3 separate regions of the Homo sapiens genome follow, and regions 1 and 2 are each linked to region 3. The links come from fine-mapping of genetic effects on gene expression. A gene starts in region 3. Each other region holds a variant in brackets. All regions are shown on one strand. Distances are between the middles of the regions.

Region 1 (8,173 bases), 56 kb before region 3:
ACATATTTTCCTCTTTTTAGATTTGTTTTGCTAAACAAATTAATCTAGCACCAGATTATATTATGAAGAACCATAAATCGCTTCCAAGATAAGCATCTGTCGAGATGGATTAGCAACATCCAATGCACTGTGAATTAATTTGCTAAGCCTACAACGCTGTCCCGGGTGTTTAACTTTAGTAATAACAAATGTAATTTGGAATAAATGGGAACTTGTTTCCTCATCCATGTCTATATAGTAAGTGACGTATACAGAGGAGGTGACAGTAAGGGAGAGTAGCAAGAAATCCTACTATGATGATGGCTGCTGAGTTTACTGAGGTAAAAATGAACACTCTGTAAACTGCTAGCAGGCGCCTGACAGTGCAGGATGAGCTGCAGACCCCGCATGTCCGTGGATTCCCAAAAGAGGCTGCATGGGAGGAAGCCGATGCAGGACCTCCAGAGTCTCTTCCTCCGGAGCCTCTTCCTCCAGAGCCTCTCCCAAGCCCACAGCCTCCATCTCTGGGCATGGCCCTCAGCATGCGCAGGGAGCCCAGGCTGTGCTTCCATAGAGACATTGCTCTCTAGGGAAGAGGAGCTCAGAAAAAAAACCGCAGGTTCTCTTGTCCAGGTGAAGGAAGAAAGTAGGTCACCGGCTGAAGGACAAAAGCCACCCACCCCATGAAAACCTGTCCAAGGACTGCCCGGTGCCTGCCTGCCCAAGATGAGGAGGAACCAGGGCCAGGACGCAGTCTAGTGAGGACGCAGAGGGCCTGGATGCCATGCCGGCCGCCTGCACATGAGCTCTGAAGAGCAGTTCTCTTCCCTCCCCTTGATTCTGCAGAGGCCTGGGTGGGGCCTACCGAGCCCACAAGCTGGAGGTTGTGGAAAGCAAGCTGTGAGGAGGCCACAGGGCGCCCCCGCCCACTTTGTACTGACGCCCTAAAATCTGCATCCGATTTTAAAGTTAGCAAATGTTGCTGTTTGTCTAGAATGTGTATGCACAGATCTAGGTTGTGAACTTCTGAGCCAACCTGGCACATCGGGCTGTGCCTGTTAACAGAGGCAGAGAAAACTGGAGGGAGGTGAGGGTGACGGGGTGCCCAGGGCTCTGCGCTCTCCCCGCAGGCCTGCTGTGAAGCCTGGTGACATCAGTGCAGGCTACCAGTTCAGGGACAAGCCCTGGCTTGGGAGATTTCCAAGGGCTACTCCTTTCAAAGCAAATGGAGGACAGCGTATAGGAGGAAAATAAAAAACAACAAAACTGCACAGAAGGAGATATTCCAAAGCCAGTGAACTGTGTGTGTCCACAGGCAGCTAGGATAACAGCAGCAGAAGAACCAAAGCCCTTTGTTCTGATCTCCGTCCTCCAAACACCCTCCTGACACATCCCCAGGGAGCCGAAAGGTGCCACCTGAATCACTGTCTGCGAAGGTTCTGTTAACACCGCAGGAAGTTCTTCCTTTTACCCAGCCTCGGCCTTTCTTGCTATTTAAGGCCATTCCTAATCCTCTACCGAGGTCAAGTTGGCAGGCACCCTGCCCCCGTCCATGCCCCCGTCCATGGGTCCCATACCCTTGAAGGCTTTTGAAGACTCTGGGGCGGGGGGATCCTTAATTGTATCACGAGACGGGCAAGCATCTTGCTCAAGGGCCGGCCCCAGAGACAAAATTCTCTGATTCTGGAAGGCGTGGCTGTGTGTGGTGGATTCCACCGGTCTGTAACAGGGCTGCAGCACCTGGTGGATTCAGCTGGTCCCTAACAGAGGCACAAGGGGTGCAGCGCCCACTTCTAGGTACATACTAAAAAGGGAAACTCTCCCTTCTCACGCCCCCTTCCTCTAAGGCACAGCCTGTATTTGCCAGTCTACAGGCATGTGCAAGCTCATGGACACATCACGCCTGCATCTCCTGGAGCCTCCACACATAGCATCACCCAGGGACATCTAAGCATCTCTCCCGAGTCACGCTCCCAGCCCTCAACCCCAAGCAAACCCAAACCAGAAGAGAGATGGCTGTACCTGAGGCCTCCCCCAGAATCCTTGGGGGCTGGGTGACTTCCCCGTTGTTGCTGGGACTGGTGGAAGGCTCCGTTGTGCTAACCCCACCTGGGATCCTTCTCCGGGGATCCAAGGACTCGGTGAACCCCTTAGTCTGCAGCGTCATGGGGGTGGCCGTGGTGGTGGTGGTGGTGGTGGCGGCCACAGTTGTCTTCCGTGTTTGTAGGATGGAGACCGTGGTGGGGCCGTAAACGCCCGGAAATGTGTTGGACTCCAGGGCCTCCTCGTCCCCCGTGGGCCCCCAGGCGATGAACTCAGTCTCTGTGGTGGGCCGGCTGCCTCTGGAGTCGAAGCTGCTGAGACCGTCCCCCTGCAGGTGCCTCTTGCCCCTCCTCAGGAGGGCCTGCTGCTCCGGGGCCCCACCGGCCACCGCGGAGGACGAGGACGAGGACGAAGAGGCGAGGGAAGGGCTGGATTTGGCAGCAGCTGGGGGCTTGGCCAGTCCTGCCTTGGGCACGAGGGCGGCCGCCTGGTCCCGGGGCCTGTGGGCCCGTCTGGCTCGAGGCATCTGCATCTGCCCGTGGATCCGCTCCACTCGGGGCGGCCGGGGGCTCCACACCGGGGCCGGGACCCGCGCTGGCTGTCCACTCCTAAAACTCCACAGCCGGGGCGGCCGGGGCGGCGACCGCGGCAGGAGCCAGAACTCCGGCCCCGGGCCCAGGGCCTCACAGGCGGGCAGGTCCACGGCGAGCTGAAACATGGCTATCAGTATCCAGGCATGGCTTCCGAGGGGGCGGCCCGGCCAGCGGATGGACATGGAGCTGTGCGGGGGGGAAAGGAGAGAAGAGCGGTCAGTGGAAGCCCAGGAGGGGGACTGGGCCCCGGGGCCCTCTCTCTCCACCCCGCGCTGTGACAAGGACGCTCTCTTCTTCTGGAAAGAGCTCCTCCTAACTTCAAAAGGGAATCCGAAACCCTTCCTTCCTTTCCTTCAAAGGCTCACTCACGTGCAAGAACAGCGCGCGCTGCGAGGGTGCGGGGAGCTGCTTCCCGGCACCGCGGGGCTGAGGCGCCTGCCAGGCACAGAGCCGGCCGGTCGCCGAATAGTCCATTTCACGCGAGCGAAAACCGAGCCTCAGAAACCCCCAGCCTTTCAGGGCAGCCTCGACAAGATAACCTGAAAAGACCTGTGAGTCCCTCCTTCCTTTTGCCCATCACACGACGAGAGGACGTAAGTGAGAGGATGGCAGCAGCGGACACCGGCCTCCACCTGGGACCCCAGGGCCAGGCGCTTTCCTCTACATAGCCCAGGCCACCCCCCGCCCACTGGGGAAGCGCCTCTCCCCAGGTCTAGGAGGAGCGGAGGTTTCAAGCTTGAAACCTCGCAGCGTGAGCGCAGGCGCTTCCCAGCACCTACACCTGCCAGGCACTTGCACTTTGCAAACACCAGCCGCTCCCGCTGCCCCTCACCCAGAGCCCGGCATGCATATCGTAAACAGGCATCGCTTTAAATGCTCTGCATGGGAAGGCTTCTTACTTCTGGCCTCCTCTGGATCGTACTCAGGGAAATGAGATCTGCTCCGGATAAACCTAAAGTTTATTGACGCGAAGTGTCTGTTCTGTTGACATTTCCGCTCCCCCTGTTTATCTGCAGTGCCGGTGCCCTTTGAAACCCTGTTATCCACCTCCTCAGCTCCCCGGAGGGCTGCAGAAAGGGCAAATCCTGCGCAACCCTGAGGAGG[G/A]CGGGGCTGCCTCTCCACGCAGCGGGGCTGCAGGGGAGAAGTCAGGGCTGGCGGGGCGGCCCCTCCCCAGTTCACATGGAGCGGCTTTGTCACCAGGTCTGGGGTCGCCTCTGGACCAGTGGACTCTCTGGTGTCACATGAAAACCAGGGCGCGGCAGAGAGCCACGTGGAAGGGCTCAGAGGAGCCAGGCCCACGCTCCCTCTTCCACCAGCACAGATAATTGAAGACTGATTATAGGTGTCATTCAAAGTCAGTTCTCGTCACCAGCCTCACGTCTGAAAGTTAAAATGAATCCCAAAACTGTAATGACTGAAGCGGGTGGGGGGCGCGAGGGTGTTCAGGTGCCAAGCGCCAGCCTGACGCCGCCCAAAGCCAGGCCTGGAAAGCAGGTTGGGTAGAGTTTTTCTTTATAAGGCGGTGAGTGACTTCACAAAGGAAGGAAGCTGTGTGTGTCATTGTAATGCGTGCACGCAAGTGTGTGAGTGTGTGCGTGTAGGCAAGCACACGTATGTGAGTGTGTACGTGTGTGACTGGGTGTGAGTGTGTGCGTGTGGGTCAAGCTGTGTGAGTGTGCCAGTGTGAGAGTGAGCCAGCATACATGAGTGTAAAGATGCATCTGGGGGTGTGTCCACGAGTGTGAGAGACTGTGCGTGAGTGAGGGCCAGGGTGTCTGTGTGTATTTGGTGCGTGTGTGAGAGTGTACTGTTGTGTGACTGTGTCCATGTGTGTCAGCATAGAAGTGTGTGAGTGCATCTATGCTCGTGTGTGTCAGTGTGTATGAGTGTATCTGTGCGTTCCTGTGTGAGTGTGTCTGTGTGAGAGTATCTGTGTGTGTATTTGTGTGTGCAACTGTATCTGTGTGTCCCTGTGTGAGCATGCGAGTGTATCTGTGAGTGTCTGTGTGAGAGACTCTATGTGTGAGTGTGTCTGTGTGTGTCTGTGTAGGAGAGTTTAGTTGTAGCTGTGTGTGAACGCATCCCTGGGGGCACGCCCTCTGTTCAGTACTGAGACCCTTGTGTCTGGTGCTGACTCTCCCAGATATCTGGGGAACAGATGGCCCCCCAGTCATCAGGATGGTGAGAGAGAAACTCTTGCTAATGAGTGCTAATTACCAAAAAGGACTAATCCCCAAACAATAAGGCTTCAGTTTTTCAATCAGAATAGAAGTGCTTTGCTGCAGAAATGAGGACCTCCACATTATGCTAATCCTCAGCACGGTGTTTCTGCTGGTGTGCAATTTCTCTGCACTAGCAGCCAAGCTCGGGGCAGGGACCAGGGCCACTGTCACCACAAGGACGAATTTAGGTTAGGGTGAAATTCCCCCATATACACACTAAGGTAGCTCCTCTGTGGCTGCAGGTGACCCAGTGAGGATGGGAGCTGGTTTAGAATCTCTAATTCTCCCATGACCTGCAGAGCTGGGTGGGAGTCTAGCCCCAGGAAGATGAGATGCTGCTCTGAGCAGGTGCAGGGTCTCACCAGGCCCCACCAAGCCCCTTCAGGCTCCACCAGGCCTCACCAGACTCTGCCATGGTCTTCCAGGCCTCACCAGACCTCACCAGGCCTCACCAGGCCCCACCACACTCCACCAAGCTCACCAGGCCTTACCAGACTGCACCAGACTCCAACAGTCCCCACTATACTCCACCAGGCCCTGATTAGACCCCACCAGGCTTCACCAGGCCCCACTACACTCCACCAGGCCCCACCGGCCCCCATCAGGCCCCACCGGCCCCCACCAGGCCCCACCAGCCCCCACCAGCCCCCACCAGGCAGGCTGAATCAAAAGCCATGACAAGCAAACCTGCCTGCCATCAGTACTTAGAGAAATATTGCCCCAGGAAATTAAAACCATAGCACCTAAGCCCGTGCCTGCCTCGCTGGCATAACTTCACACACAGGATATTTCTGTGATTTTTCACCAATCATGGCTGTAATTGGTTACTATAGAAACCCCCTCATTTCTAAGACACCCAGCTGTTATGCAGAAAAACCAACCAATTGCAACAGTGGCAGGGAGAGGTCGATTTGTTTTTCCTCTTCAAGTCTGGTTTCTTCCTTTTTAAAGTGATTGATTTGTTCAGAGAGGAAAAAAAAGAGGGCAGGTGGGCAACCAGGACAGAGGCCCCAGCCCACTCCCAGCAGCCAAGAAATGTGGGGGGCAGGGGGAAAGCCCCTCCCATAGGAAGACGTGTAGGGGCCACTGCTCATTTCTGTGCAAGGCCAAGGGCCCCAGGCTCTGCATTGCCACCAAGACGGCTGAGCTTGGTGTGCTGCCCGGACCTGGTCCTGAGACTCTTGGGGACCCCTTGGTGAGAGGCTGCATCTCTGCAGCAGGAGGACTTGGCTCTATCTCCAAGGACCAGTGAGCAGTACAAACAATCTCTGTCCTCATCCCTTGGGCGGCTCTGAGATGAGGCAGAGCCTGGGAATACTCTTCTCACTGATCCTGCTCAGCCTGGGGCTTGGCCCTGAGCACCTCTCATTTCATGATGAACAGATTTCGGGAGGGCCTCACCCCATAGGGCATCCATGGCACTGTCAGACATGCACCAAGATGGCAGGCGACCCCACACCTCCTCTGGAGGCAGGCCCTGTGGCATGGCTGCCGACCACAGCACCAACCATCAGGAGGCGAGGCTGTGGGGCAGGCAGAAGTGGCACCAGCTCCCCTGAAACTCAAGCATCCACAGGCCCCTTAAGAACATACCGCCCGGCCAGACATGGTGGCTCACGCCTGTAATCCCAGCACTTTGGGAGGCCGAGGTGGGAGGATCACGAGGTCAAGGGATCGAGACCATCCTGCACAACATGGTGAAACCCTGTCTCTACTAAAAATACAAAAATTAGCCAGGTGTGGTGGCGTACACCTGTAGTCCCAGCTACTCGGGAGGCTGAGGCAGGAGAATCGCTTGAACCCAGGAGGCGGAGGTTGCAGTGAGCCGAGATCATGCCACTGCACTCCAGGCTGGAGATGGAGTGAGACTGCGTCTCAAAAAAAAAAAACAAAAAAAAAACGTACCGCCCACATCACACCCACAGAGAGAGCTACAAGCAGAAAGACAGAGAACATGAAGTGCTGGCGAGGACACGAGGAGATGAGAGACCTAGTATGCTGTTGGTGGGAATGAAAACCAGAATGCCTCTGGGCAAAACAGTTTGGCAATTCCTTGGAACCCTAAAGACAGAGTTCCAGGGACCCTGCTGCCCCTCTCTTAGGCACAGACATCTGTCCACATGAAAACCTGCACTGGGAGGCCCAGGGCCACACTCACAACTCACAACAGTCAAAGCTGACTCAGCTCACGTGCCCGTCAGCTGAGGAATGGATAAAGGGGATCTGGCATAATGTTACAATGGAGTATCGTTCAGCCTTTAAAAGGAAGGCAGGATTACTTGATCTATGCTACAATGTGGAAGCACCTTGAAAACCCTGAGCAGGGAAAGAAGCCAGGCACTCAAGGCTACACGGTGCCCGGTTCCGTTTATAGGAAATGCACAGAGTGACCAAATCCACAGAGACAGAAAGATGAGCAATTGCCCAAGGCTTGGGGAAGGGGTAATGGGGTAGGGGGTTTCTTTATGGGGTGACGAAATATTCTGGAATTGTGTGTGGGGGTAGCTGCACAACTCTATGCCTATACAAAACCCACTAAACTGTACATTTGTAATAGGTGAGTTTTGTGCAATGTATATCCCAATACAAATCAAAAGGAACATGCTAGAGAATGGGGTGTGTGCAAGGGTTGTGGGGACAATGTGGAGTGCATGGCGTGGCACCCTAATCCTGGCCCTGGCGGATGGGTGGAAGGCAGAGCGGCCCCCAGAGCTGCAGGCACATGGGCAGGAGGAAGCCATGGAGACTTTGGGTTCATCCACCCAGTCCTCACTGGGACACCCTGAACGTGAGACAGGGTCCCTGCCTGAGCACCTGAGGACCACATCCACACCCTTTGAGAAGAGGCAGGGACAGCTCCCTCTCAGCAGCCTCGAGCCCATGATTTTCAAAGAAAGAATAAACTCCTTGCCACCACCCCCTGCTCCCCAGCTGCTTCCAAATGGGGAACAACTGCTCCGTCTCACTTTATTTTCTAGTTTGTGGCTTTCTTGCTTCTCTTCCTTTTAAATTTTTATTGAAATCTTTTTTCCCGAAGAACAGTTTAATAAGATTTGGTGAATTGAGATTCAATTCACTACCTTCTGTATATTTTCTTCACAGAAGAAAATCACTGTCAATTAAGGGGCCAAAGACATCTCTTCCACTTAAAGTTGCACCTTTCCCCGAGCCGGGAGTGTGCGGCGTGAGCCTCCTGGGAGCAGCTGGTGTCTGCCTTGTGGGAGCACTGGTGCAGTGAGAAGCAGGCCAGGCCCTGGAATTGTTCCACCGGGGAACAGCCCAGAATCTTCAGGGTGGGACAGGACCTTGGAGCTGTGCCTGTGGCCAATCCACCCC
Region 2 (8,173 bases), 82 kb before region 3:
TTTCACCATGTTAGCCAGGATGGTCTCGATCTCCTGACCTTGTGATCTGCCCGCCTCGGCCTCCCAAAGTGCTGGGATGACAGGCGTGAGCCACCGTGCCCGGCCAGCCACTTTTTAAGCGTACAGTTTGGCAGCATTAAGCACATTTACATTGTCAGGAAATCACCACCACCCTCCAACTCCAGAACTTTTTCATTTTCCCAAAACTGAAACTCTGTCCCCATCAACACTCACTCCCCATCCCCCTCCCCCAGGCCCTGGCACCCACCATTTGACTTTCTGTCTCTATGCATTTGGTGACTCCAGGGACCTCATATGAGTAGAATCTGACAGAGTTTGTCCTTTTGTGGCCGGTTTATTTCGCTTAGCAGAATGTCCTCAAGGTTCAGCCACATTGTATCATATGCTGTAATTTCCTTTGGTTTTAAGGCTGAGGGATATTTCATTGTGTGGATGGACCACATTTTGTTTATCTGCTCATCCATAGATGGACACCTGGGAGGTGTGACTTCGAATATTGTAAATAACGCTGCTGTGAACATGGGTATGCGCACATCTCTCTGAGACTCCGCTTTAAATTCTTTTAGATACACCCCGTCAGGTCCTTTCTCCTTCCAAGATGAGAGGTGTCGTGAGCTGGACGGGGAGTGGCCACCATGGTGGGAAGCCATCCCGGAAGCCCTCTCAGTAGATGATGGGTAAGGCCTGGGGTGGGCTCTGCCCCTTATCAGACACTCTGATGCCAAAGGCACAAGAAGGAACCTCAGACTTTAGGAGGGATGCAGAAGAACCAAACACAATTCAACGTTGAAGTGAGGGCCGCCACAACCATGCTGTGTGGTGAAGAACAGAAATCACAAGTACAAAAGAAAACAGAAAAAAAAACAACAACCAAAAACAGAACCTGCTGCCTCCTCCCCCTCTTCAGATGGTTTTTTCTCCTTTTAAAAATATGCTCCAAGGGTCATTTCTGTGCAGTGAGAGAACACGAAAAATACCAACAGCTCGTGTGAAATACCAGCCAAGATGACTAAGAAAAGATGAAATGCAAATTGATCTCTGCCTCTTGGGAACTGATTTAAGAATCTGTTCAAAATCAAATTAACTTTTTGACTTATTTCCCCAGAAAGCTCAGAAGGTGGCAAGGAGACCTGGAGTTAACACGAGGGTAGGGGGTGGACTGCATTCCAAATGCATTGCCAACAGTGGGCTTCCCAGGCCTGTCGCATGACCATTGCTGCCGACAGACGGGAGATGTCTGTGCTTGGACGGACCCACTTTCCAAGGCCGGCAGACCCCAAAGCCTGCCGATACTTGCACTGGGCAAAGTGGGAATTATTACGCAGGTTTGCAGCATTGTGAGCAAAGTGGGATGCTGTGTGTGAGATCGTCTTTCCCCGCCTGCAGTTTACTGTGGGGTTGTGGAAGGGCACCCCCAGGACGAGAAGACTCTCCCACATGTGTTTGAGTGGGACATCCACCAGTTTTCTGCGTCATTTAGCTCCAGGTACCAGGAGTCTCACCAAGAATTCCGGTGCCCATGGAAAATGCAATCTCCCGGGAGAGAGGAGAAGCAGTGGCCCTGCCTCCCCCACATCTCAATTCCCAACATGAACTTGGTGTCCAAACCCCCAGATGTGCCCCCACGCCCTTCCCACCTCCTTCTCCTCCTAAGTGGTCACCTTGCCCTGCTGCCAGGGCCCCAGGTCTTCCAGCGGTTCTCTCCTCTGAGTTCTCCTGCTCCTATGGGGCCTCCCTTCATGGAAGAGCCAAGTCAAGTGGTGGCCTCCGCCCACATTTTGTCCATGCATGTCCTAGGCACTTTCATTTCCCCCTGGAGTGGAATCCCTAGCAGGGCTCCCCGCTTCCCACAGCCTCTCCTACATCCAGCAGCCCAGGGAACCCTTCCAGAACAGAGCTCAGATCTTCCTGCTTCCCAGCTCAAACCCTCCAGCGGCTTCTCCTAGTCTCTGCACACCCCCGCGGTGCTGCCATGGCCTGGGGGGCCTGCCCTGGCTCCCACCCCCTCTCCTTACTCTTCCCTTCTGCTCTGTGCTAATCCTTCCCACCAAATCTGCCTGCCAGTGGCTCTCGCCAACAACCTCCACTCCTGCCCTAGGGCTGGCTTCCCTCCCGCCTAGAGTGCTCTCTCTTAGCTCCAGACCAGCTACCCCCTAATCACCCTCCCCTTGTTCAGAGAGAGGCCCCTCACGCATGCTAACTCCCCAGTCAATCCACATTCTTCTTGCAGAGACTCTTATGCTATCTTGTGTATTGACTCAGTCTGCTCAACATGGTTGACAATTACGCATTTATTTGAGTGAATTTCCAGACAATCACCCTTGTGGGCCTGCTAGCCCCATGAGAGCAGGGCCCCTGTTGTGTTGATCATGCCTCATCATGCATGGCCGTGGCCTGCCATGTGGCTGGGGGCTGCATGCTTGAAGGACGCCTGGGCTTTGGGTCCCATTACTCTTCTGAAACATTAGCAAGACAAGAAGTGTAACATTTGGAATGAGTAAAATTTGTACTCAGTACCAGGTAAAATCAAGCCTGGGAAGCTGTTTCCCCCAGGCAGGTGCTTTGCACACCTTTGGAGTTTAACCAGCTCTTGTGAAACTGAGTTCTGGGCTTCTTCAAAATCCACATGGAACCATGGGTGCAAAAGGCAGCTGGTTTTGGTTTTGGTTTTGGTTTTGGTTTTTTTGAAAGAGGGTCTCGCTCTGTCGCCCAGGCTGGAGTGCAGTAGTGCAATCATGGTTCACGGCAGCCTCAATCTTCTGGGCTCAAGCGATCCACCTGCCTCAGCCTCTCGAGTAGCTGGGACCACAGGTGCATGCACCACTACATCCAGCTAATATTTTAAATAATTATTTTTGTAGAAAACGGGGTCTCACTCTGTTGCCCAGGCTAGTCTTGATTCCTGGGCTAAAGTGATTCTCCCACCTAGGCCTCCTAAAGTGCTGGGATTATAACTGTGAACCACTGCACTTGGCCTAGAATTTCTTTAAAACCCACAACAAGGGCCTCAGGAGTCTGGGACCTGGGCACCCTGGCCCTGCCTATGCAGAGGCCTAAGGAAAGGATGAGCTCGCAGATCTCGGGGGGCTTCCGTCTCGGGGGGGCTCCCGTCTCTGCTTGCACTTGCACTGCGTCCTGTTGCTGCACCAGGAAATCCAACACGAGCCCCAGAAAAAAAAATCTCACCCCACAGGTCCCCATCCTTGCCGGGTAATCAGTGCTATGGCATTTCCCTGAGAGAGGTGAGGGGCCGAGGGGTGGGTGGTGACGGGGGCTTGTCCAGGGACTCGGCAGAGCCAGGGGGCAGGCTCAGGCTCAGGCTCAGGCTCATGCTTTTTCCCGACTCTCTGCTCTGCCCCAGCCTCCTCCCAGCCTGGGTTTGGTGAGAACCTTCCCATCCCAGGGGTGCCCATCCACAGCCCCATAGTAAACTGCAGGCAGGGAAAGGACGCTCTCACACAGCATCCCACTTTGCTCGCGATGCTGCAAACAGGCGTAATAATTCCCACTTTGCCCAATGCAAGTGTGCCAACTCCAGTACATTCAGAGAGTTGCTCTAGTTCATTCAACCATTTTTCTCTAGATGATGGCTGGATTAAGCGGGGCCCTTGCTTGACCTGGGCATGAAAATAAGCCCCCGCAGGGAAGAATTCTCAGGCCTCAATCCACCCCCAGTAGTCAGCCCTGGAGACCCATGTCTGAGTCCTAGGGCTGCAGGTCCATGTAGAAGCCCTCTTTCCAACCAGCCCACCCAAGCTGTGCACTCCAAGTTTACCAGCGGCCCCCGCACGTTCTCCACAGATACACTGGGATAACTAGGGGTTTGAGCTACAAGGCCTTTTCTTTATTCTTTAATTTTCATTTGCTTATTCAATAAATACATATTGAACTCCCTACGTGTGCAAATTGCTCTGCCGTGTGCTATACAGAGGATAAAAAGAATCAAAAAGCACATCAAGGCTCGGGCCTGAAGGAGCTTGCAGGTTCACTGGGGAGTCAGGGCCTCACTTTTAATCCTATTTTGCAGTTATTTATACATATAAATACAACCAGGAAGGCAGCATGAACATTTGAGGAAGGAAGAGATTATCGCTGGCCACAGAGGATTAGAGGAAGATGTGTGGGAGGGGAAGTACTTGTGGCTGGTGTTTTTGGAGCAGAGTGAGCTGGGAGGGGGTAAGATGTGACTGGCAGAGCCAAGACCGTGGGAAAGGGAGGGCTGCGCACAGCGCAGCGGGCAACAGGAGGCCAAGGGAGAAGGCGGTCACAGCCTGGAAAAGAGGTGAGAGAGCTTGAACTTTCTTGGGGTAGGCAGTGGGGAGCCAATGACAGTTCTTGAGCAGGCGAGGGGCAACATCAGAGCTGTGGTTTAGGAGAACTGATGGGGCAACTATGTGAAAACTATTTCTGTCAACGGTCTCAGG[G/C]ACACCTCTGCAGCCTTTACCATGTGCCAGGGCACATCCCAAGCCCTTTACAAACATTAACTTTTTCTCCTGACAACCCTGGGAGGTTGGCATTTTTCTTACCCCTGTTTTCCAAATGAGGAAAGTAAGGCGCAGGTAAGGCAGCTTGCCACTGTAGCAAGTAGGGAGCTGATCTGGGGCCTTAAGGAACCTCAGCGCCAACCCTCTTCCTCTAAGCTCTGCTCCCCTCAATCTGACCAGCAATGGCAAAGGCTGAAGATCACCGTGGAGACCCTCAGGAGGCGGGCCCCAGGGCTGAGCTGCAGTGACACAGGGAAGGGGAGCCAGCTCCGAGGCCAGAGGCAGGGGTAACAGGGGCTGTGCCCCATTTTCAGGAAGATGGGACCCCGGAGGAGGCGGCAGCTTGTCGAGGGGCTTACTGAGGCTCAGATGGCTGCACTGCATGAGTCAAGCCAGGGTAGGGCTTCAGGGAGCAGAGGAGCAGGGAGGAGCTCACCTCACACCTCACACAGCAGGCAGAGGTGCCCACTGTACAGCAGGCAGCCTGGGAGGAGAGACCTCCGTGTGCAGCCTCCTGAATGTCCCTGGCTATTCAGTGGGCTGTCTTATCTTTTTAAACCTTTCTGAGCTCTTAGGCCAGTGCCACAGGCAGAATAAAGCTGCCCACCCGGTGCAGTGGGTGCTGAGCCTGCATACCAGGCTCCTTTCCTGCAAAATTGGATGGGCGAGACATTCAACCAGGAGAGTCCCAAACCTGGGGCCCAAATTGGTCCCCTCTCCCAATAGGCGTTCTCACCCCACTGATGCACATCGCACCCTCCCTCCCACACGCTCCAGGCTGGAATTCCAGGGATGACTTCTCTCCCCATCTCCCCTATGTGAGTGTCACGGAAGAAAAGACCTGCTGTGACCAGCTTTTGAAGTGACTTCAGCCCAGTATGCTTTTCTTGTCTTCTTCTAGCAGCCAGGAGGCCTGGTCCCACCATGCCTTGCGTGCTGTGGCAGGCTTTTGTAAGGGTGTGCTCCTGCCGCTGGTGCGGAGCTCACCCAGGTGTAGAAGAGAAGCCCCTCTACCCGGCCCTCTATCACCCTCAAGGGTCGCCAAGCACGCGGAGCTCATACGTGTAAGCAAAGCAGGACGGCTCCCAGGGAAGTTGAGGTGAAGACGGCTGCTGCAGGCTGAGCTCCATCACGCGGCTCAGCTTGCAGGCGATGGACGGAGGAGTCGAGAAACAACATTGCCATCTGTGCCGGTGGACAGAAAGCCAGATGGAGGCTGAGTGCTCGGGGAAGAGGAAACGCCACTGTTTCGGGCCTCGGAAGCAGAAGATGCTTCCCGGGCCTTAGAAACCTTGTCCGGGGGAAGGTGAGAGCCTTGGCCCTGCCACCATCACTGACCCCTCTTGGGTGCTGCCCTTCTCCTTCCTTCCAAGAACACCCGAAAGACAGATCATGCATCATATTCAGCATCGCCCACAGGTGCCACTCCAGCCCCATCCAGTGCAGTCCGAGCTCCTGCAGTGACGAGGCCTGACATTCATTCATGGGCAGACCTGGACAGACTCCTTAATCCCTGTCTCCACTTCCTACTTTGTAAAATACCATACGCCCAAGGGATGGTGGAGAAGACTGAAGGAGATACAGTCAGATGAGTGCAGGCTGTCAACACACCATCCCTGGAACCTAGGTTTGAATCCTGACTCCACCCCCTTCAGGCTGTGTGACCTCAGGCAAGTCACTTAACCTCTCGGGGCCTCTGCCTCTGCTGATTTAAGATCAGAGGAATGCCTTCTTCCCAGGACGTGTGTCCTGTGGGCCTTATGAGATTTAATTCAAGTCAGCTGTCAGAACCTGGCTCCCAGTATGGACGCAGCGCTGTTAATAGTGAGGCAGGAGGCTCAGTAGGGCAGGCCCTTCCTATTCCGGGGCTCAGCTGAGGCACTCCTTTCATCTAAGAAGGAGCATCTGAGCGGGTGCCTCTCTTCCTCCACACAGAACAAGTGCATGGGTTCAGGGCCCTGGCAGGTCTGTATTTGGATTTTAATTGTCATGATTGAAGGGGCCTTTTGCAAATCGCTCTCGCTTTTCCTGGGCTGAGCCAAGTCAATACTCGGTACGTGATCGCTTACAAAAGCCGCTAATTGGAGCTCCGGCAAGGGCCCTGCTCGCGACGCACACACCTCGCGTGAACCGCTCCATTCAGCTCCCCCCGCCCCCACCTCCTTTGATCCACATCTCATAAGGGCATCTTGCCCTAGAATTATGAGCACAGAAATCAGAACAAGAATCTTCTTTGCGTTCTATTTCTGGCTCTGACACAGACGACGGCGTGTGGGCAGCTCACAATGCCAGAATTTTCTCTGGTCTCTGGGAAATAGCACAAGTCACAGTGGCCTTCTCCTATCCCTGCCCACAAGGAGAACAAGGGGAGGGGTGGGCTGTCCTGGACCAGGTCAGAGATGGGTCAGGATGAACCGAATCCTCCCAAGGCCGGCCCGCTGGGATTTCCCGCGCTCGGAGCAGGATCTGTGTTCCACATCCCATTCTTCCAGAACAAGGAGGGCGGGCCTCTGAGGACAGGAAGACGGCTGTGCAATTGGACTTGCTCCCCACTGGACTGCATGCCATGTGAGGACAGGGGTTGAGTTGATTTGGCTGCCTGTGAAGGGTCCCACTCCCAGCACAGCCCTGGGCACACGAGATACTTTGGTCAGCTGAATGAATGAATGAATGAATGAATGGTTGAACAGGTGAACAAGCGAATGAGATTCTGTTGGGCAGCTTCTCGCTGTCCTGTGACCTGCTTCTGTTGGGTTCTAAACCCAGGCTTTGGAAGTGATGACTCTTGGGGCCATCCAGCCTTGGGGAAGCACAGACCCACGGCTCCCCGTGACACTGACGTCTTGGGTATGCAGATCATCTGAAGGCGGCATTGCATTTTAAAAATCACGTGAAAACCCTGAGCCAAGCCCTGGGGGTTCTGCTACCTTCCCAGCCCTAATTCTAAGAGTAGAAGGGGGTCTGGGGTGGGGGCTGCCCACTTTGTTGGAGGCGGGGCAGGAAATCCCACAAAATTTTCTTGAGGCAAAAATAAGCATTTTAACAGCTTCTTAATTTTTCTCAATCCAAACAGATTCTGAAATGCCCTGCTGGGCAAAGAAGAGTCCAGAAATCCTATTTTCATTCATTTGTGGGGAATTTGGACCCCAAGAGGCCATAGCCAGAAGTCCAAGCTAAGATGTCTATTTGGAGACGCAGTTCCTCCAAGGATCTCCCAAGAGCGTCAGGGGAAAGAAAAGAAACAGCTCCAATTTTCGAAGCAGACTGTAACTTACTAAGCCTTCTCTCACCTCTCTGGTCTGGAGAACTGACTGAGGCCTGGTGTGGAAGATCATCTCCATTGTATTAAGGAGCCCACTGAGGCTCTGGACTCTGTGACTCACCCCAGGTCTCGCGGAAGGGCCAGGGGTTCACCCTCACTCCCTCACTCCTGCGTTGCTGTGAAGCCGCTCTCACCTGCCTGCACAGGCACAGTGGGGCCTGGCACAAGGGACACTCTCATTGACAGTAAGTTACAGCACTGAGAGGCTGTCTGTAGGCAGAGTGCAATTCTGGGGGCCCCCGAAGGAGCCCAAGTTGGGCCTCTGGGGCTCAGAGAACTGAGGGACAGCTGGCAGGCCATGTGAGGGAGGGGGCCCAAGGTGGGAGGGCAAAGCCACAGGGCAGGG
Region 3 (8,173 bases):
TGATTGTCCCCGAGGAGTAGCACAGCCGCTGACACTAGATAGATTCCAGTTGCAATCAATTTAGTAGCAGCAGCTGGAAATCGGCGCGAGCCAGGATTCACCCGGAGCGCAATGTTTGTGGACTGCGCGTTTGACTTCATCCGCTAAAGCTGGGCTGCACAGCCCCAGCTGCCTGGGGACTCTACAGCGAGGATGGTGACAGCCAAGCCAATGGATCCCTGCCATGAGGCCCAGACATGGTACAGCGCGCACTGAGAGGGCTTGGGGAACTGTGAATTATGTCAACACACACACCCAGGGCCTCCCAAACAAAAGGGGCCCCAGAACCTTGGAGCGGGAGAACAGATGGGATGGCCGCAGGGACATGGGCTGGGAATGAGCTCGTGGCACTCTGCTAGGGATCACAGTCCTGAGCGCAACCCAGCAAACGTATTAGGTGGACGCTCGGAGCCCCTGAGGAAGCCACAGCATCTGAGGTCTGCAGCCTGGGAAGCAACTCACAACCAGGAAGCCAATTCCAAACTCTGGGCTGCTTGCTGAGTACGCGCCCCCTCCACGGGTGAGCTCTGAGCTGCTTGCTGAATACGCGCCTCCTCCACGGGTGAGCTCTGGCAGGGCTTGTCAAGCCACTGGGTCTCCTTCCGTGGCTCCCTCTCTCTCAGCTGATGGAAAGTATCTTTGGAGCTCTGCTACAACTATTAAATGCCACCGCAAAAGACACAAAAGCTGCTCAATAAGTCTCAATCTGCTTCTCCCTCTTGGGGGGAAAAGAAAAAAAAAAAGCTCCACATACAGCTCAGTTCCAACACAGACGTAAATAACCAAGCCCAGACTTCGTCTCTGGGGCCGGAACTAAGAAAGCCCACCCCACCCCCACCCCCACCCCCTGCCCAGCAAGTTACACTGCACCTCTCCCATGGTGGAGCAAGCCAGGCCTTCTGCCACCCCAGCTGGAGGCTCAGTGTCTACCTGTCCTAACCAGGCTCCAAGCTTGGCAGCAAGACGCCCAGTGCTCACCTAGGGAGCCGCGGAGTGGCTTGCAAGCAAAGGTGAAGGGCTGTCTTGAAAGAAAAAGTGCATTTCCAGACCTTGAACTTGCAACCCTTTGGCTCAGAGTCCCCAGGTGCCCATTGTGATGCAAAACCACCCAGACCCTCTGGGTACAGGCCTCCTTCTCTGGCCAGGAGACAGCAGTAACAAGACAGAGCTCTCCCATCAGGATCCCAAATAGGTGACAGCTCGTCCTTAAAGGCACACTTACAGAAAATCTCCTGTGCTGACATCGAGGGGGGAAAAACGAAAGGTCAAACTTCAAAAGAACCAACAGAACTATTTCCTAAAGCAAAATCCCAAGATCCGGCTTGAGGATGCTTGAGAGGAACTGTTTTAGTAAATTTCAAATCAAAAGAGAGGCTTCTTTCCAAGATATTTGCTCTTCTCTCCCTTTATCAAAATGTACTCATCTTTTAATCTAGCAACTTAGCAATAAAAAAAAATGTCTGTTCAAATAAGTTGCCATCAGGAATCAAGTGGCAGCTCAGGAAGCAGGTCGGAGCTGAAGACCAGCCACTGGCCAGTGTGGGGACCCGTCTGGTCATTCACAAAGCCTTGGAAGGTCTTGCTGAGACCTGGGACAGTCCGGGGCAGAGCAGGGGATGGCAGGCCTCCAGGGCACCTGGATCAGGGTCATTCCTGCAAAGCTGTCCTCGCTCCATTTTGCCAACATCCCACAACGGTCCAAGCCTAAACCTTATCTAGCCCAAGCACACTTATCGATTCACGCCCGACCAATATCCCACACCCAACACAATCGGCTCCATGATTAACCTTTGAAGCCCACAGCAAGATCGGCCACTGAGAGAAGGGATGCTAATAATAACATCTGACAATGTTCACTAGATGTGTTACACAGTATTCACCTCTGGGAGCAGAATCGGCTCATAAATCAAGGGTCGCTAGAAAACACTTGGCGTCCCAGTCCCCTTCCGATTTCTCAAAATCAGGACACGCACTAGATCCTCCCTCCCTTCGCCTCACTCCCCCCGCAGCTTCATCCCTGAGTGGGGGCGGCTCAAGCAGCGGGCTAACAACTACTGGCCTTTTCGTCCCCAACGCGGGAGCGCAGTGCATCCCAGTGGACAAACTCGAGAACCGCACGCTGCTCTCCGCCTCCACCTCTGTCCTCCCCGCTCGCGGTTCCAACCCGGGACCCAAATGCACGAGCTCGGTGAATGCCCCGGCAGGAGGGCGAGGGCTCAGAGGCAGCCTGCCCAGCAAAAACGACAGCTGTGCTCTGGTGGGCCCTGGGCCACCCCAGGCAGAAGCCAGAGAAGCCCGAGAACCCCGGCGGGCTGGCAAAGTTTGCCGAGAAGGGTCTTTCTGGACACCCCCACCACGGGCTCTAGGCTCGAACCCCCTCTTCCATCTGGCCCTGGAGTCCCAGACACAGACAAGCCCCGGGCGCGCCGGCGGGCGTATGTGCGTGTGTGTTTACAGCGGGGTGGCCGCCGGAGCTCCCCAAGAACCCCAGCTCTCCCGCCCCAGCTGCCCGCCAGCTGTGAGCGCCCGTCGGGCCCGGAGGTCACCCGCAAACAGCTGGGTCGGCAGCTGGGAGCCTGGGAGGCCCCTGCTCAGCCCCGGGGCCCCGAGAAAGGAGAAGGGGGAGCGGAGTGGCTGTTTGGCTGTGGTTTCCTCCAACTCCGCCTGCGAAGCTCTCGCTGGGAGCCCGGAGCTTTAGCTTTCCCCGGCAGCCCCGGCCCCCGCGCCCGCCGCGCCCAGCGGCCGGCGCCTCGCCCCGGGCCCCGGGGAGGAGGCGCGCCGGGGCAGCCGGCCAGGACACTGCGCTGCTGGCTCCTAGAGCTGCGGGCGCGCCTGGCCGGCCCCACTTCCCGGGTTGCTGGGGCGGGCGCCGCTGCCCCGACCCCGGACGCGCGGAACCCTGGAGACCCGGCCGCTCCCCGCCAGGGCCGCGGTGCTGCTCCAGGCTCCGGGCGGGCGCCCCTTTCCGGCTACCGGTGCACCCCGTTGCCCGCTTGCGGGAAGCGAAGAGGGGTCCCTTGATTTGCAACATAGAGGAAAGCGCCGCTTCCGCCCAGCCTGGCACCCACGCGCCCACACGCACCCGGCGCCGGCCGGGTCGCTCACCTGAGTCCTAAAAGCTGTTGAATCCACATGGTCACGTTTCGGGGAGCGGGGCCTCAGACCTGGCTCGCCCAGGCCATCTGCGCGGCGCCCGCGCCCGCTCGCTTCCGTCCCGCGGCGCCGGTCTCCGGCTCTCGGTCCGCCGCCTCCCGCCGCCCGCCGGCCGCGGGGCGCACAGCGAGTCAGAGCGCGGCCGCGCGGGGCTCCATGCCGGCCGGCGCGCCGCCGCCGTTGGGGCGCATGGCTCAGGCTGGGCGGCCCGCGGGGGCGCACATCCTCCGGCCGGGGCGCGGGGCTCGCGGCCCCCTCCGCCGGCGGCACAGCGAAGGCGGCAGCGAGGCGGGGCGTGTTCCGGCGCTGTCGCGGCGCAGCAAAGGGCTGGGGAGCCGCGGCTTCGCCCTCCGGGGCGGCGAGGAGGGAGGCCGGCGGCGCTGCCGCTCACGGTGCGTGTCTCCCGGCGCGCGGCTCTTGCCTCCAGCCGGAGCTCCGCGCCGATGGGGCGGCGCTGCTTAGGGTTTGGGGTGACGCGACGCGGACGGACGCGAGTCCCCTCCGCGCTGCCGGGTCGGGGGGCTCTGCCAGAGGCTCCGCCGCCGATCGGCGCCACTCAAGTTGCCCGGGGGCTCCGTCTGAGCGCTCGCTCTGCAGACGGCCGCGGCCCGGAGACTGGCAGGAGGCGGGCACGAGAGGCGCGCGGGGCGAGGGCGCCGTGGAGCGCGGGGCGTGGGGACGCGCGGCGGCGGCGCCGCGCGGAGGAGGCGCGCGGGGATCCCGGGGCCCCGCCGCCCGCGCCCACCGCGCCCGCCGCAGAGCCGCCCGCGCTGCTCAGCCGCCTCCCTCCTCGCGTCTGCCTCTCCGCGCGCTCGCCCCCGCCTCCCGGAGCCGGTCCCAACTCCGCCCGCCCGGCCCGGCTCACGTCACCCGCCTTCCCCGCCCCTCGAACGGGAGCTCGAGCCCCTGGCCTGGCCCCGGCTCCTGCTCGCCGCCCCACCTTGCGGGGGCCGGGGTCGCCGCGGGTGGTGGGGGGCGCTGTGCCCAGCAGGGGCGACAGCGCAGGCGGGGCCTCCTGCAGCCCCCTTCCCCATCCCCGGTCGCGTCCCGGTCCCCACCTTGCGAAAGGCTCGAGAGAGGCCGCAGGCTAGGATTGGACCGCCGGGCGCCGCCGGATGGTGTTGCCAGGGTAACCGGATGGCACGCGAAGCCGTTCGAGGTTCCGACCCGGTTACGGGGGCGCCCAGTGGACCCGGAGAGCTACTTTGGGGAGGGGGCGGCCCCGAAGAAGGACTGGGTGGGGGCGCATGGAGCGGGGGCTGCGCGAAAAGTTTCCTGGGGCGGAGCTGAGCCACGCGGGCCGCGCAGGAGCGTCTGTCCGAGGGTCGCCTACGAGGGACTCCTCTGCTCGGCTGCGCGGGCTTCTGCGTTGATGAAGTCACCGCGTTCCGGGTCGGAGCTTCGGCGCTTCTGCCCCGAACCCAGCGAAGCCCGGTCCTATGCCCCCAATTACCCAACGGTCCCTCATCGCCCAGCGCAGCTGCTGCCTGGCCAGGCCCTTGCTCCGGAGGAGTCACTGGAAAGTTCCAGGGAATCTGGGCCTCCCGGACTCTCCACCGGCGTTTCACTGCTCCCTTCCCATGCCAGGACTCCTCTGTGCCTACCTGGTTAGTCTGTATTTGCAAAAAACAAACAAAAACAACAACAAAAAACAAATGGGGGGCACTTAAAGGAGGACAGACGCTGGGCGGGGACCTTTCACTGAGAGAAGTGACATGGGGCGGAATCCTCTGCAGACCCGCTGACGCCTTGAGAAACCACGGCAAAACCCTGCTTTTAATCCTCCACAGGCTGAGGGCAGTGCAGAATCCGGGCCTTGGAAAGGACACTGGTGCCACCCTTCACTGGGGAAAGGTGCAAGGGGCGGGGGATATACCATGCCGAGCCTTCGCTCTGTGCTCTGTGCAGGTGCTTGACCCAGGCCAGCTCTGGAATCGCCCCAGGCCATGTGAGAGCCGTGGGGGGTGAGAGGGGCGGGAAGCACTTCACAGGTGAGGCCTCCCTGGGAGGGGCAGCCAGTGAGGGGGTGGAAGGGCAGAGCCAGGAGGACCATGGCTTGGGGCTCAGTCTCCCAGGCGAACCATAGCTTGGGGCTTAAGTCCCCCAAGCAGCCCTTTCACCCCCAGGCCTCCAGGATCTTTGCCAACGGTCTTGAGGAGCCAGGCACAGGATTGGACTCTGCCCGGGCAGGAGGATGAAGACAGTGACTTCCCCACCAAGACTCCCGGCAGAGGGCCAGAGGCAGGGAAGTGTGGTGGCAGGAGGGCCAGCCTTGCCGTGGCTGGACCAGGGGCCAGCGCTTGCTAACTCGGGGTCCTGGCCGAGTTGTGTGGCCTCTCCGACCCTCGGTCTCCTCATCTGTAAGATGGGTCCCACAGCCCCTCCCCGGGGAGGTGTTTGCAGGGCTCCATGAGAAGGCCTTACACACACTGTGGCTATGGTGATCTGTGAGCCGGTCAGAGGACCCGAGAGGCAGCAGGGTGACTCAGCAGTTTCCCTGCCGGGCCGCCCCTGGGTCATCGTCCCCTAGAGCCTCTCCCTGAGGGGTGTGAGGGAGCGGATCCCATTAAGAGGCGAAGGAGGCAGGGAGGTCCTGGAACCAGCGGGGCCTATGGCGGCCGGCGGGGAAGGAGGCGCCGGCAGTGCTGCCACCTAGCGGTGTGAGGAGGCGGTGCTGCACCAGGGAGGCCCTTCCTGCAACCGGAGTGGGCCTGGAAGGGGCCGGCTTCGCACACTAGGAGCCAGCAGGGCAGGGAGGGGCTCCGGACCGGACCGTGTCGGCTCCAGGAACCCCTTGGGCAGCCTTGTGGACACCTGCTGACCTCTCTCAGAATGGCTTCTAAGTGCATAGATGAAAAAGCCCAGGATTATTAGGAAACCAATTCTATGCAAATGCATTATCAAAAGAGTAATAAAAACAAATTTCTGATATAGCCGTATATATTATTTATTAATACACTTAGTAAGCAATTGACAGATCCTAAATTACGTTCCTTTTGAAGTCCAGATATGCAGCAATAATATCCTGAGGTAACTGCAGCCATGGCAGTGTGATATGGAAATGCCAGTGCTTTCTATGTTTGACGGTCACAGGCACTGAGCTCTGCCACCGACATTGATAATGAAAGGAAATGCCAAGTCTCAGTTAGGGTTAAATAAAGATGCCAGTTTTCCCCCATACGAGTTGAAAGACCCTTTGAATTCTATCCAAGTACCCTGGGAATCTCTGGACAAAGAAAATAGTAGAAGGAAGTGTTTTCTGACAACCGAGATGGGAACAAGCCCTGCAGAAGTCTCCAGGCGAAGTCAGAGCCTTAAGACTACAGCTGCTGCCCCGGGTGAGTGAGGGCTTCTTCAGTCTATGGGGACGGAGGATGCCCTCTGCCCTCACCCAGGCTTAAAATTAGGATTTGGGACCAGGGTACACTGATTTCCTTTTTCTCTAGGGTAACTCAGGTCTGCCTCTCTCCAAAAAGAGCAATCCACCTATTATTATTATTATTATTATTATTATTATTATTATTGAGATGGAGTCTCACTCTGTCACCTGGGCTGGAGTGCAATGGCATGATCTCAGCTCACTGCAACCTCTGCCTCCCAGGTTCTCCTGTCTCAGCCTCCTGTCTCAGCCTCCCGAGTACCTGGGATTACAGGTGTGCACCACCACGCCCGGCTAATTTTTGTATTTTTAATAGAGACAAGGTTTCACCATGTTGGTCAGGCTGGTCTCGAACTCCTGACCTCAGGTTATCCACCCACCTTGGCCTCCCAAAGTGCTGGGATTGTAGGCCTGAACCACCGCGCCCAGCTTATTATTATTATTTCGATGACAAAATCATTGTCTTTTTTTTTTTTTACAGACTGTAAAACGACAAAACCTTAACTTGCATTTCAGCATTTCTAGAACTGGTTTTCTATACATTGATGGCTCTCATATTTCTAACTGGTTCATTTTTCTTCCCTTGGGGATTGGGAAGCTGTGTGTATGTCACTCCCACCCAACACACACACACACACGCGTGTGCGCGCGCACACACACACACACACGCCTCCCAGCTTCGGCGATACAAAAGGGAACTGTTCAGATGTTCATGCTGTGGAAAGTTCTTCCGGTCACCCTGCTAATTCTGGCCCTTTCTCCCCGCTGGGGGAAGTCCACAGCCTGGAACCCTGGGGAACCCCTGCGGTCTCCTCACCTAGTCCCCTCCCCTATTTTCCCAACAAAGGAGCCAGCAGGCCCCTGCAGGAGGTCCTCTTTGAAGCTCTCTGAGGCCATTTATCTAATGGCCTTCACAGACTTGACTATTTTTAAAACCCATCCAAAGCCAAATTGAGCTGCCATTGTTCATTTTTCTCCCAAGGAGGTAAATGTGTCTTAACCATGACATTTGATTAAGTAGCTAAGTTTGTGATTTTAAATGGAAGGGAAAATGCTGATTAAAATTATTATAAGTTTCTTGAAAGCATTCACAGGAGTGTCTTCCCTGACTCTCCTATCTTCCTGGCTACCCCCCTCCCAGTAAAACTTGCAGGAAGCTCATGGTTGTCGGGGGCAGGGGGAGTGACGCAAAGTCGCTTTTCCTTCTCAGGGAGGTTATATGCTGGAGATTTGGGGTTTCCTCCCCCTGGCACCTGAGCTGTTTCCTGGGTGAGGCTGCACACAGCTGCACTACACGCATAGCTGAGCGCAAGGCAGAGACCAAGCCTTGGGGCAGAGGTGGGAGCCAAGAAGCTGTACTCCCACCCACAAAATGACTCACAAGACAATCATCCTGCAGCCCAGCACTGGCCGGCAAGAGAAAATGCCAGGTCTGAACTGCCTGTGAAAGTGTACCCATGCATCAGAGAGAGGAAGACGGGATTCCTTGGCTTGCTCTGAGCAAGTGATAGCCTCCGGGTACAGATGGAAAGAGGGCCACCTAAGAATTTGATCTGGCCCAGAATGGAGAAAAACTCTCATCTCAAGGCTTTTATGGATCTT

The links. PIP is the estimated chance that this variant, and not a neighbour inherited with it, causes the effect.
Region 1: its variant is fine-mapped to the expression of AJAP1 in whole blood (TOPMed, PIP above 0.99).
Region 2: its variant is fine-mapped to the expression of AJAP1 in whole blood (TOPMed, PIP above 0.99).

What each region holds. Positions count from the first base shown.
Region 1 is chr1:4,706,528-4,714,700 of GRCh38, reverse strand. It overlaps AJAP1 (adherens junctions associated protein 1), which reads right to left. Exons shown (of 6, transcript NM_018836.4): 2 at 2,002-2,801. Among named protein-coding and RNA genes, the nearest start is that of AJAP1, 56 kb to the right of the region's middle. RefSeq lists enhancers at 3,094-3,710, 3,711-4,329, 4,780-5,692. The variant G/A (reference allele first, on the strand shown) is at 3,720.
Region 2 is chr1:4,732,436-4,740,608 of GRCh38, reverse strand. All of the region lies in intron 2 of AJAP1 (adherens junctions associated protein 1), which reads right to left. Among named protein-coding and RNA genes, the nearest start is that of AJAP1, 82 kb to the right of the region's middle. RefSeq lists an enhancer at 6,230-6,730. The variant G/C (reference allele first, on the strand shown) is at 4,446.
Region 3 is chr1:4,650,426-4,658,598 of GRCh38, reverse strand. It overlaps AJAP1 (adherens junctions associated protein 1), which reads right to left and starts at 3,990. Exons shown (of 6, transcript NM_018836.4): 1 at 3,145-3,990. The coding sequence starts at 3,173. RefSeq lists an enhancer at 5,950-5,999.